Linked DNA regions of Homo sapiens: region 2 is linked to region 1. The links come from fine-mapping of genetic effects on gene expression. A gene starts in region 1. The other region holds a variant in brackets. All regions are shown on one strand. Distances are between the middles of the regions. Region 1 holds the start of VSIG10 (V-set and immunoglobulin domain containing 10). Region 2 overlaps VSIG10 (V-set and immunoglobulin domain containing 10).

Evidence for each region. PIP is the estimated chance that this variant, and not a neighbour inherited with it, causes the effect.
Region 2: its variant is fine-mapped to the expression of VSIG10 in whole blood (TOPMed, PIP above 0.99).

What each region holds. Positions count from the first base shown.
Region 1 is chr12:118,101,515-118,106,882 of GRCh38, reverse strand. VSIG10 (V-set and immunoglobulin domain containing 10) reads left to right here and starts at 2,872. Exons shown (of 9, transcript NM_019086.6): 1 at 2,872-3,290. The coding sequence starts at 3,212. LOC124903029 (a long non-coding RNA gene) reads left to right here and starts at 3,301. Exons shown (of 2, transcript XR_007063478.1): 1 at 3,301-3,894; 2 at 4,616-5,278. RefSeq lists an enhancer at 422-1,137 and a silencer at 2,779-3,028.
Region 2 is chr12:118,066,076-118,071,443 of GRCh38, reverse strand. VSIG10 (V-set and immunoglobulin domain containing 10) reads left to right here. Exons shown (of 9, transcript NM_019086.6): 6 at 1-85; 7 at 377-392; 8 at 2,847-3,067; 9 at 4,750-5,368. The coding sequence ends at 4,805. All of the region lies in intron 1 of LOC124903030 (a long non-coding RNA gene), which reads right to left. Among named protein-coding and RNA genes, the nearest start is that of WSB2, 7.6 kb to the right of the region's middle. The variant A/C (reference allele first, on the strand shown) is at 2,674.

The DNA of each region.
Region 1 (5,368 bases):
TGGAAAAGAAAAAGACACAGAGACAAAGTATAGAGAAAGAAATAAGGGGACCCGGGGAACCAGCGTTCAGCATATGGAGGATCCCGCCAGCCTCTGAGTTCCCTTAGTATTTATTGATCATTCGTGGGTGTTTCTCCGAGAGGGGGATGTGTCAGGGTCACAAGACAATTGTGGGGAGAGGGTCAGCAGACAAACACGTGAACAAAGGTCTATGCATCATAGACAAGGTAAAGGATTAAGTGCTGTGCTTTTAGATATGCATACACATAAACATCTCAATGCTTTACAAAGCAGTATTGCTGCCCGCAGGTCCCACCTCCAGCCCTAAGGCGGTTTTTCCCTATCTCAGTAGATGGAACGTACAATCGGGTTTTATACCGAGACATTCCATTGCCCAGGGAGGGGCAGGAGACAGATGCCTTCCTCTTGTCTCAACTGCAAGAGGCATGCCTTCCTCTTATATTAATCCTCCTCAGCACAGACCCTTTACGGGTGTCGGGCTGGGGGCAGTCAGGTCTTTCCCTTCCCACAAGGCCATATTTCAGACTATCACATGGGGAGAAACCTTGGACAATACCTGGCTTTCCTAGGCAGAGGTCCCTGCGGCCTTCCGCAGTGTTTGTGTCCCTGGGTACTTGAGATTAGGGAGTGGTGATGACTCTTAAGGAGCATGCTGCCTTCAAGCATCTGTTTAACAAAGCACATCTTGCACCGCCCTTAATCCATTTAACCCTGAGTTTGACACAGCACATGTTTCAGAGAGCACGGGGTTGGGGGTAAGGTCACAGAATCTCAAGGCAGAAGAATTTTTCTTAGTACATAACAAAATGGAGTCTCCCATGTCTACTTCTTTCTACACAGACACAGTAACAATCTGATCTCTCTTGCTTTTCCCCACACTAACACGGTGAAACCCCGTCTCCACTAAAAATACAAAAATTATCCGGGCGTGGTGGCAGGAGCCTGTAGTCCCAGCTACTTGGGAGGCTGAGGCAGGAGAATGGCATGAGCCTGGGAGGCGGAGCTTGCAGCGACAGAGCGAGACTCCGTCTCAAAAAACAAACAAACAAAATTCCTGTCAAGAATCTGATGAACAGTTATTTTATTTTATTTTTTATTTATTTATTTTTTTTGAGACGAAGTCTCGCTCTTCTCCCCAGGCTGGAGTGCAATGGCGCGATCTCGGCTCACTGCAACCTCCACCTCCTGGGTTCAAGCGATTCTCCTGCCTCAGCCTCCCAAGTAGCTGGGATTACAGGCGCCTGCCACCACACCGGGCTAATTTTTGTATTTTTAGTAGAGACGAAGTTTCACCATGTTGGCCAGGCTACTCTCGAACTCCTTACCTCAGGTGATCCACCTGCCTCGGCCTCCCAAAGTGCTGGGATTACAGGCATGAGCCAACGTGCCCGGCTGATGAACAGTTATTTAAAAATATTTGAGCAAAGAATAAAAAAGGGCTGAGCGCGGTGGCTCGCACCTGTAATCCCAACACTTTGGCAGGCCAAGGCGGGTGGATCACTTGAGGTCAGGAGTTCGAGACCAGCCTGGGTAACATGGAGAAACGCTGTCTTTACTAAAATTACAAAAATTAGCTGGGCGTGGTGCTGCACACCTGTAGTCCCAGCTACTCGGGAGGCTGAGGTGGGAGGATCACTTGAGCCTGGTAGTTTGAGGCTGCAGCGAGGTATGATTGTGCTACTGCACTCTAGCCTGGGCAACTGGAGTGACACCCTGTCTCAAAAAAATAAAAAACAGAAAAGTAAAAAAGGCAGAACTGTTCAGCTTCATTGCTCAGTTCACCAGGAGAAACATTTTTTTTTTAAAGTGGTTTCAAGAGGATTTCCTCATGGAAGAAGCATTTCAATAAGGGGACCGTTGAACAACAGAACTAATGATTTTTTTTTAACGTTAATATTTATTTTGAGATGGAGTCTCGCTCAGTCGCCCAGGCTGGAGTGCAATGGCGTGATATCGGCTCACTGCAACCTCCGCCTGCTGGGTTCAAGCGATTCTCCTGCCTCAGCCTACCCAGTAGCTGGGATTACAGGCGCCCGCCATCATGCCCGGCTAATTGTTGTATTTTTAGTAGAGACAGGGTTTCACCATGTTGGTCAGGCTGGTCTCGAACTCCTGACCTTGTGATCCGCCCACCTCGGCCTCCCAAAGTGCTGGGATTACAGGTGTGAGCCACCACGCCCTGCCATATTATTATTATTTGAAACAGGAAGTTTCTCCTAGGGCTGTTTTATGGATGGCTCTTCCTGAGGATATCAAAGCCGCATTTTCCCCAGGACAGAATGGGATGAGGGCATGGCAGGGAAGAGAGGAGCTTAGCCTGGGAATCTGACTGGGTAAGGGGTGGGAGAACTAAAAGGGGAAAAGCAAAAACAAAACTCTTGAGAAACACGTCCTGGGGACTCCTTGGCTCTCGCTGTCACTGTGTGGTCCCAGCCAGTTCACTGGAGAACCGGAGTCTCGTGGCTGCTTTGGCTGAAAGTCAGGGGATCATCTTTCTCTGGCTCCCTTTTGCAGAGGGTAAGGAAAGGAAGCGATGGCGGCCTTGGCGCCCGCCCTGCGCCCAGGGACACAGACCGGAATCCCTCGAGACGCTCAGCGGGGACTGCCAGGGGGGTCCTGCGTTCTGCAGCTTGGCAACCGCTTCCTCCGGGTTCTGCAGCCCGGGGCAGCGGCGGGGGTTGCGTCCTGCGGCAGCTGCAGGGCTCCGTCCCGCCCGCTGTCCCCGCGACTCGGTACTGCTGTCCCGGGCGGAGTGGACTGGGGAGGGCCCAGCCTCCGCGCCCCGCCCCTGGCCCGGCGGGACCCGGCTCGGCGCGCCCTCGGCAGAAAGCCCTCCTCCCGGGCCAAGGTAGAGGAAGTTGGGCTCCCGCCTGGCTGGGAGGCGGGAGGGATCCCGCTCCTGTTGTTTTCCGCCGGCAGGAGTAGGCTGGCGGGCGCAGGGGGCGGGGTGCGCCCTCCCTCCCCGGCCAGGGCGCTCGGGAGCGGGGACCCGAGCCTGCAGCCGAGCTCCGCTGCCGGCCCTGGACACTCGGCTCAGCCAAGCATCCTTCCTGGGGGCCGAGGAAGTGGGGCCACTCTGCCGTTCCGAGGACCTGGGAGGAGCCCTCGGTACCCCGGGCCCCGGGGCCCTGGGGCACACACGTCCAGCCCAGCCCGAGCCTGCGTTTCCTGAGCCGGGATCTGGGGCGAGATGGCCGCAGGCGGCAGTGCGCCCGAGCCCCGCGTCCTCGTCTGCCTCGGGGCGCTCCTGGCCGGCTGGGTCGCCGTAGGTAAGGGGCCGCGATCTGGAGGGAAAAGTTGAGTTTTCCCAGTCAGCGGTGGGGAGGGGACAGCGAGAGACCCAATTCCCTCCGACTCCGCCCGGATCCGTGGTGGCCCCAGCCTAGAAGCTGCCCCAGGAGGGTCTTGGTTTCCTGCTCGCAGCTCGGCCGTCTTTGCAGGAAGGAGTTTTCCCGGGCGCCCGGTGCGGGGCGAGATACCCCCAGCCTCCTGGGGTGGGCAGCCGGTGAGGCTGCAGAGGAGCCGAGCCGAGCCGACGTGCGGGGGCAAAGTAAAGAGGCACGTGTGCCGGGAAAGTGATTTTTTTTTTTAAGCGTCGGATGTAAATTCGCGTTCTGGTTTTAGTAGTAACTGATACGCTGGTGCTCAAACTCGAGACTCCCACTTTATTTTTCTCCTCCCTCTGCCCAAGGTTGAACTCGCCTTACACCTGTAACCGGTGGACTTCCCTACACACCTTTGCAAGTCTTCCTGTGCCGACCAGCGCCTTCAAAGCGGGGTCTTCCGCCTTTACTTTTGGAAAAGCTTTTTATTTTGAAATACTTGGCTGACTTACAAAAGACTTCCCCTCACACTTGACATGATTGACAAAAGGTCTGAAATGCTTCATCTATGGTCTGCTTTGCTACGAAAAAAGAATTGGAGGGGTGCTTACAAAAATATGTAGAATGTAAAAAGATTGAACTATTTATATATATTTGAATTTAATTCACCAGCATGCCTACTGTGCATGCCTACTGTGTGCTGGGAGTGTGACAAGCTGGGAGGAGGCTGGGGTGCAGGGAGAGGAGATGGAGCCAGGAGGTGGTGAAGTTTGCCAGGATGCAGGCAGAGCGCTACTTTTTGTGTTCCCGGGTCTGCTCCACCCAACGGGTCTCCTCTTGCACGTTTCTGGAGATGGGTTGTAAAGTATGCTGGAGCTTCTTAGCAGCAAGTGCCAAGAGTTCCTAATTATTAGGCTCATACAATTTTATTTTGCTTTTTTTTTTTTAACCAACCATTTAAAAACAATAACATCTCTAGATTTCCAGTTTATCTGGAAAAATCTGAAGGTCTGGCAACACGGGGCCTGCTTTCCCAGTTGGAATTGGGCAGTGGTCATCCTCTTATCTAGGGCATATGAGCCCAAATTTGTTCCACCTCTCCCTGTTGTAATATTTGCCCCGCCACCTTCAGTCATGGGTGTTACCTGCTGGCCCTGCAGGCATTTGGCTGAGTAATCACTGTGCTGGGGTGTGGGTGATGGGGGAGGACAGTTCCTAGTTGGTCATCTCTGGACGTGAAAGGTGGTTGTCAAGTATTCCCATCTCCCCAGCTGTTTGCAGTGTTTCCTGCACGATGAACACCAGGAACCTGGGAAGTGAGAAGAACCCTGGGATGAAGTCATCCTGCTGGAATGACCTGGCTTTCAGGCTGACTGCCACCCGCCCCATGGGGAACCTATCTCCACTGCTATGGCCAGCTATTTTTTTCGAGCCAGGCTCTCGCTCTGTTGCCCAGGCTGGAGTGCAGTGGTGCAATCACTGCACTGATCCTCCCACCTCAGCCTACAAGTAGCTGGGACTACAGGCGTGCACCACCACGCCTAGCTAATTTCTAAAATTTTTTTGTAGAGACGGTCTCTACAATCGCTTGAGCCCAGGCTGGTCTTAAACTCCTGGACCCAAGCGATCCTCCTGTCTCGGCCTCCCAAAGTGTTGGGATTATGGGTGTGAGCCACCGTGTTGGGCCTTTGCCCAGCTATTTTGATGCCCAGACCTGCTTCACCTTTGTGTATGATGCCAGGGGGCTTCCTGAGCTTGGTGTATTTTTGTTGTGTGTTTGTTTTTTAAGTTGGGAGTTTTTGGGGAAAAAAATTTTTCTCCTGACATTCAATGCCAGACAACTTATATGCATCCACTAGCTACCCCGGATTGTAAATCCTAGGTTATTCTTGGGAAAAGTTGCTTTAAAAAAATAAATAAATGTTTGGGTATAACTCCTACTCTGTAAATAATAATACATGGGCAGCATCAGGGAGTTTATATTACTCCCTCTTCGGTTCTCTATTGTACATTTAAGGTTGGGG
Region 2 (5,368 bases), 35 kb after region 1:
GGAACCATTGTGAGCCTCCTTCTGCTGGGACTGGCCATTATCTCAGGGCTTCTGTTGCATTATAGCCCTGTGTTCTGCTGGAAAGGTAAGGACTCCCTGGGTCCTTTAGCTTCTCTTCCAGACTTTTGAAAAGGTGCGGGATGGGGAAGGATGGCCCCTGCCTTGCTCCCACCTGAAGTTCTGTTCTCTGGGCTTCTTTGCTGGGTCAAGATACACAGTAATAAGTCACCTAAGTACCATCCCGGGACACCCTATCACCTGTCATATTGAGTCAGTTTTCTTATTTGTTCCTCTAGTAAATGTTTGCCTGATTAAGAACCTGTCAGGTTGAAGTGGATGTTACTGGATATTAATGGTTTTTCCTTTCTCTCTTCAGTAGGAAACACTTCCAGGTGAGTGTTCCCTAGAATCAAACCAAACACCCATTCCCGCATCTGTCTTCACTTCTGTTTTGTTCCCTTCCTTTCACAAGAACAATAATAGCAACTACCATTGAGGACCTACGATGTGCTAGACACTGGCCTAGGGATTTCATCAGGTATTCTTATAAACCCTTTCATCATCTCCTCAGGGTGGTGGTGACATCTCCATTTTCCAGATAAGGGGATGGAGGCTCAGTGAAGTAATTTCTGCAAGCTCATTCCAGAAGAAAGCAGCAGTGCCTTCCTTCAGGTCCAGGTCTAATCAATTCCAAAGTCTGTGTTCTTTTACAGCGCCAAACCTCAGGGCTGGACACATTGCAGGTCTGTCATTGAGACAGAAAGACAATGTGTACATTTTGAGCCAGTCATTCATGCATTTGTTTTATTTAATTTTCTAAAAAGAGCTAAAAGAAAGAATCAGTCATAGTCTTAAGTTTTTTTTTCTTTTTCTTTTTTCTTTTTTTTTTTTTTTTTGAGACAGAATCTCTCTCTCTTGCTCAGGCTGGAGTGCAGTGGTGCAGTCTCAGCTCACTGCAATCCCTACCTCCCAGGTTGAGGCCATTCTCCTGCCTCAGCCTTCCGAGTAGTTGGGATTACAGGTGCGCACCATCAAGCCTGGCTAATTTTTGTATTTTTAGTAGAGACAGGGTTTCACCATGTTGCCCAGGCTAGTCTCAAACTCCTGGCCTCAAGTGGTCTGCCCGCCTCGGCCTCCCAAAGTGCCGGGATTACAGGCACGAGCCACTGCACCCAGCCAGTTTTACAGTGTTTTGGAAGACTACTATGAGCATGCCCAGAACCCCCTCCCAAAAGGAAACCCCAGTAGGGGCGAAGGAACCAAACGGAACTTGTGTATTTCATTTCCTAAGGAGATTCTGGGTGGGAGCAGAGTACTCTTCTCTATGATCCTATGGAAAAACAGTTCTTTACCTCTTCAAAATGACAGGATATTATTGACCTGGGACCATCTTTCGTAGCAAAACATTACCTTTACTGCCCTGTATTGGAGGGCCATTCTTAGTAAGTCTGTCATTCCCTGGGCTTATTTCTCACTGGAGGCATCAGTGTGGTGTAGTAGGAAAAGGCACTGAGACCATTGGACCTGGGTTCAAATGACAGCTGTGCCATTCCCAAGCCCTGTACCCATAGAAAATCCCTGACCCTTTCTGAGCCTTAGTCTCCTGATTTGTTTCACCAGGGGGTTTGTGAAGATTAAATGACAATGTAACACAGCTCCTCGGGCAGGTGACTGACCTGTGGCGTTCATTCTTCTTCCTTAAGAAATGCATAGTCCAGGCCGGGTGCAGTGGCTCACGCCTGTAATCCCAGCACTTTGGGAGGCCGAGGCGGGTGGATCACCTGAGGTCGGGAGTTCGAGACCAGCCTGACCAACATGCAGAAACCCCATCTCTACTAAAAATACAAAAAATTAGCCGCATGTAGTGGCGCATGCCTGTAATCCCAGCTGCTTGGGAGGTTGAAGCAGGAGAATTGCTTGAACCTGGGAGGCAGAGGTTGCGGTGAGCCATGATTGTGCCATTGCACTCCAGCCTGGGCAACAAGAATGAAACTCTGTCTCAAAAAAAAAAAAAAAAAGAAGAAGAAGAAGAAGAAGAAATGCACAGTCCAGGCCGGGCACAACAGTGGCTCATGCCTATAATCTCAGCACTCTGGGAGGCCAAGGTGGTTGGATCACTTGAGGCCAGGCATTCGAGACCAGCCTGGCCAACATGTTGAAACCATGTCTCTACTAAAAATACAAAAATTAGCCAGATGTGGTGGCGCATGCCTGTAGTCCCAGCTACTTGGGTGGCTGAGGCAGGAGAATTGCTTGCACCCAGGAGGTGGAGGTTGCAGTGAGCCAAGATTGCGCCACTGCACTCTAGCCTGGGCAACAGCGCAAGACTCTATCCCGAAAAAGAAAAAAAAAAGAAATGTATAGTCTGAAATGCAAAGTCTGGCTGGGTAGGCAAGCTAGTGAGCTGGTGATAAATAAACTATAGCATGGACTCTAAATGCAGTCATTAATTTAGGTCTTTAGCAGGAGGGAGAGGACTTTACCTGGGTCTTCCAAAATGAGGAAGGGGAGAGATTTTGGTAAGTAGAGCAGAATGAGGGCATTTCAGAAAAGGAAAAACATTTGTCTACCTGCTGTAAGGGGACATGAAATGGTAGATGCCTGGGACAATATGGTCACCTGCCCAAGGAGCAGGGGAGTAATAAACCAGCATGAGATACCATCATCTGAAGC[A/C]ATTTGTGGCAGCATCTCTGCGGTTACCACACCATCACCTCATTACTTCACCAAGCTGTAATTTTCCATATTACTAATGGGGTTGCAAAGAATCTAGTGTTTCCTATTCAGTGAGGGCTGAAGTTGGGAAAAATAAGAAATCTTCTTGATTATTTTTCCCCTTTGGAAATTAGGGGACAAAACATGGATGATGTCATGGTTTTGGTGGATTCAGAAGAGGAAGAGGAGGAGGAGGAGGAGGAGGAGGAAGATGCTGCAGTAGGGGAACAGGAGGGAGCACGTGAGAGAGAGGAGTTGCCAAAAGAAATACCTAAGCAGGACCACATTCACAGAGTGACCGCCTTGGTGAATGGGAACATAGAACAGATGGGAAATGGATTCCAGGATCTTCAAGGTAAGCTCTTTTTCCTTAAACAAACAAACAGAAAACAAACAAAAAAAGGCGCGTTGGCTCACGCCTATAATCCCAGCACTTTGGGAGGCCAAGGTGGGAAGATCACTTAAGCCCAGAAGTTCAAGACTAGCCTGGGCAACATGGTGAGACTCTGTCTCTACGAAAAAAAAAAAAAAAAAAAAGAAAAATTAGCCGGTCATGGTGGTGTGCACCTGTGTTCCCAGCTACTTGGGAGGCTGAGGATCACTTGAGTGTAGGAAGTCCAGGCTGCAGTGAGCTATGATCACACCACTGCACTCCAGTCTGGGCAGCAGTAGGAAACCTGCCTCAGAAAAAAAAAAAAAAAAAAAAAAGCCCACAAACCTCTGAACTGCTGCGGTGAGCTTCCCAGCAGGAAATCTCTAAGGGGTGAGTTTAGTTTTTTTAAAAGGCTGGGGAAGATAGCTAAACTTTAGTCTAGAACCTGAGACTACTATCAACTACCAACATGAAAATCAAATTGACAAACACTTATCAAGGTCCTGGTCTAGGGTAGGCACAATATTGGCATTGTGGGAGAACAGAAAATAGAGACTGGTAGTGTCTGCATGCAGGGAGCTTTACAAGACCAGTTCAGGCCAGGTGCGGTGGCTCACGCCTATAATCCCAGCATTTTGGGAGGCTGAGGCAGGTGGATCATTTGAGGTCAGGAGTTTGAGACCAGCCTGGCCAACATGGTGAGACCCCCATCTCTACTAAAAATACAAAAATCAGCTGGGTGTGGTAGGTGCCTGTAATCCCAGCTACTTGGGAGACCAAGGCAGGAGAATCACTTGAACCCGGGAGACGGAGGCTGCAGTGAGCCGAGATCGTGCCACTGCACTTCAGCCTGGGTGACAGAGTGAGACTCTGTCTCAAAAAAAAAAAAAAAAAGGCCAGTTTAGGGGAACAAACTAAAACCTGCAGGGGAAATGGAAACAGGAGCAAGATTGAACCAACACACTGAGAGAGCAGTAGAGGAGCTGTTGCAGGAAGATATTTGATTAATTGCCTGATGGACAACACATTTAAAAATTATAGGCACGGTTGCTCATGCCTGTAATCCCAGCACTTTGGGAGGCCAAAGTGGGTGGATCGCTGGAGCTCAGGAGTTCGAGACTAGCCTTGGGAACATGGCAAAACGTGTCTCTACTAAGAATACAAAAAATTAGCTGGGTGTGTGGCATGTACCTGTAGCCCCAGCTACTTGGGAGGCTGAGGTGGGAGAATCACCTGAGCCTGGGAAGTTGAGGCTGCAGTGAGATGAGATCGTGCCACTGCACCAAAATTTATAGGACCTCAGAGAAAGATAAGAGCCCGGAGAGGTGTGCTGGTCAGGGGAAGCTTTATGGAAGAGGTAGACATGAAGCAAGGCGTTAAGACGGCTGAGTTGGAATAAGCAGAAAGGAGAGAGGGCGTTTCAGGTGAGGGGAGGGGCGTGAGCTGAGGACATGAAGGGTGACTGGTATCAAGCATGCCTAGAGGTTCTGAATGTAGAAAACAGGTGAAAAGGGGAAAACACACGCTGCCCTACCTTCTCCATGAGATCCCATTCTGTGGCTCACCAGGAAAGGACTAGAAATCACTGAGATGATTGATGACTGACGGTGGAAATAGAATCACACTCTGATTACAAAGCATTGGGTTTATTTCCCCCCATACAGATGACAGCAGTGAGGAGCAAAGTGACATTGTTCAAGAAGAAGACAGGCCAGTCTGAAGAAGAGGATGGTCCATGGTTGTCTTGCTCTGAAAGCTTGGAGAGCTACATTGAAGACGAGCTCTTCATTCAGCTTTGACTCCACCTGCACCCCTGGCGGGGGCTTGCACTAACAATGTTTGGGTCTCAGCAAAAAACAAAACCAAGCACACACATCTTTCCTTCCATGTATTGAAAAACATTGGTTTGATTTGCTCTAAGTTTTCCCAATGATGTTTAAAAGCTTTGAGAAGGAAAGCTGCTTTGGTGTCTGAGGTGCCACTTCTGCTGTGAATCCTGGCTTTATCCAGGTTGATCTACTGTGATAGATGCTGATTTAGAGGGAACAGAGGTCAGGGAAGCACTGGGTCTTGGTGCCTTTTGCCGCTTTTTTTTTTTTTTTTTTTTTTTTTTGAGACGGAGTCTCCCTCTATTGCCCAGGCTGGAGTGCAATGGCACGATCTTGGCTCACCACAACTTCTGCCTCCCAGGTTCAAGCGATTCTCCTGCCTCAGCCACGGCACCTTGCAAATATCAGCTCCTTGGAACAGGTGAAGTTCCAGGTACCAATGCCAATCAGAGGA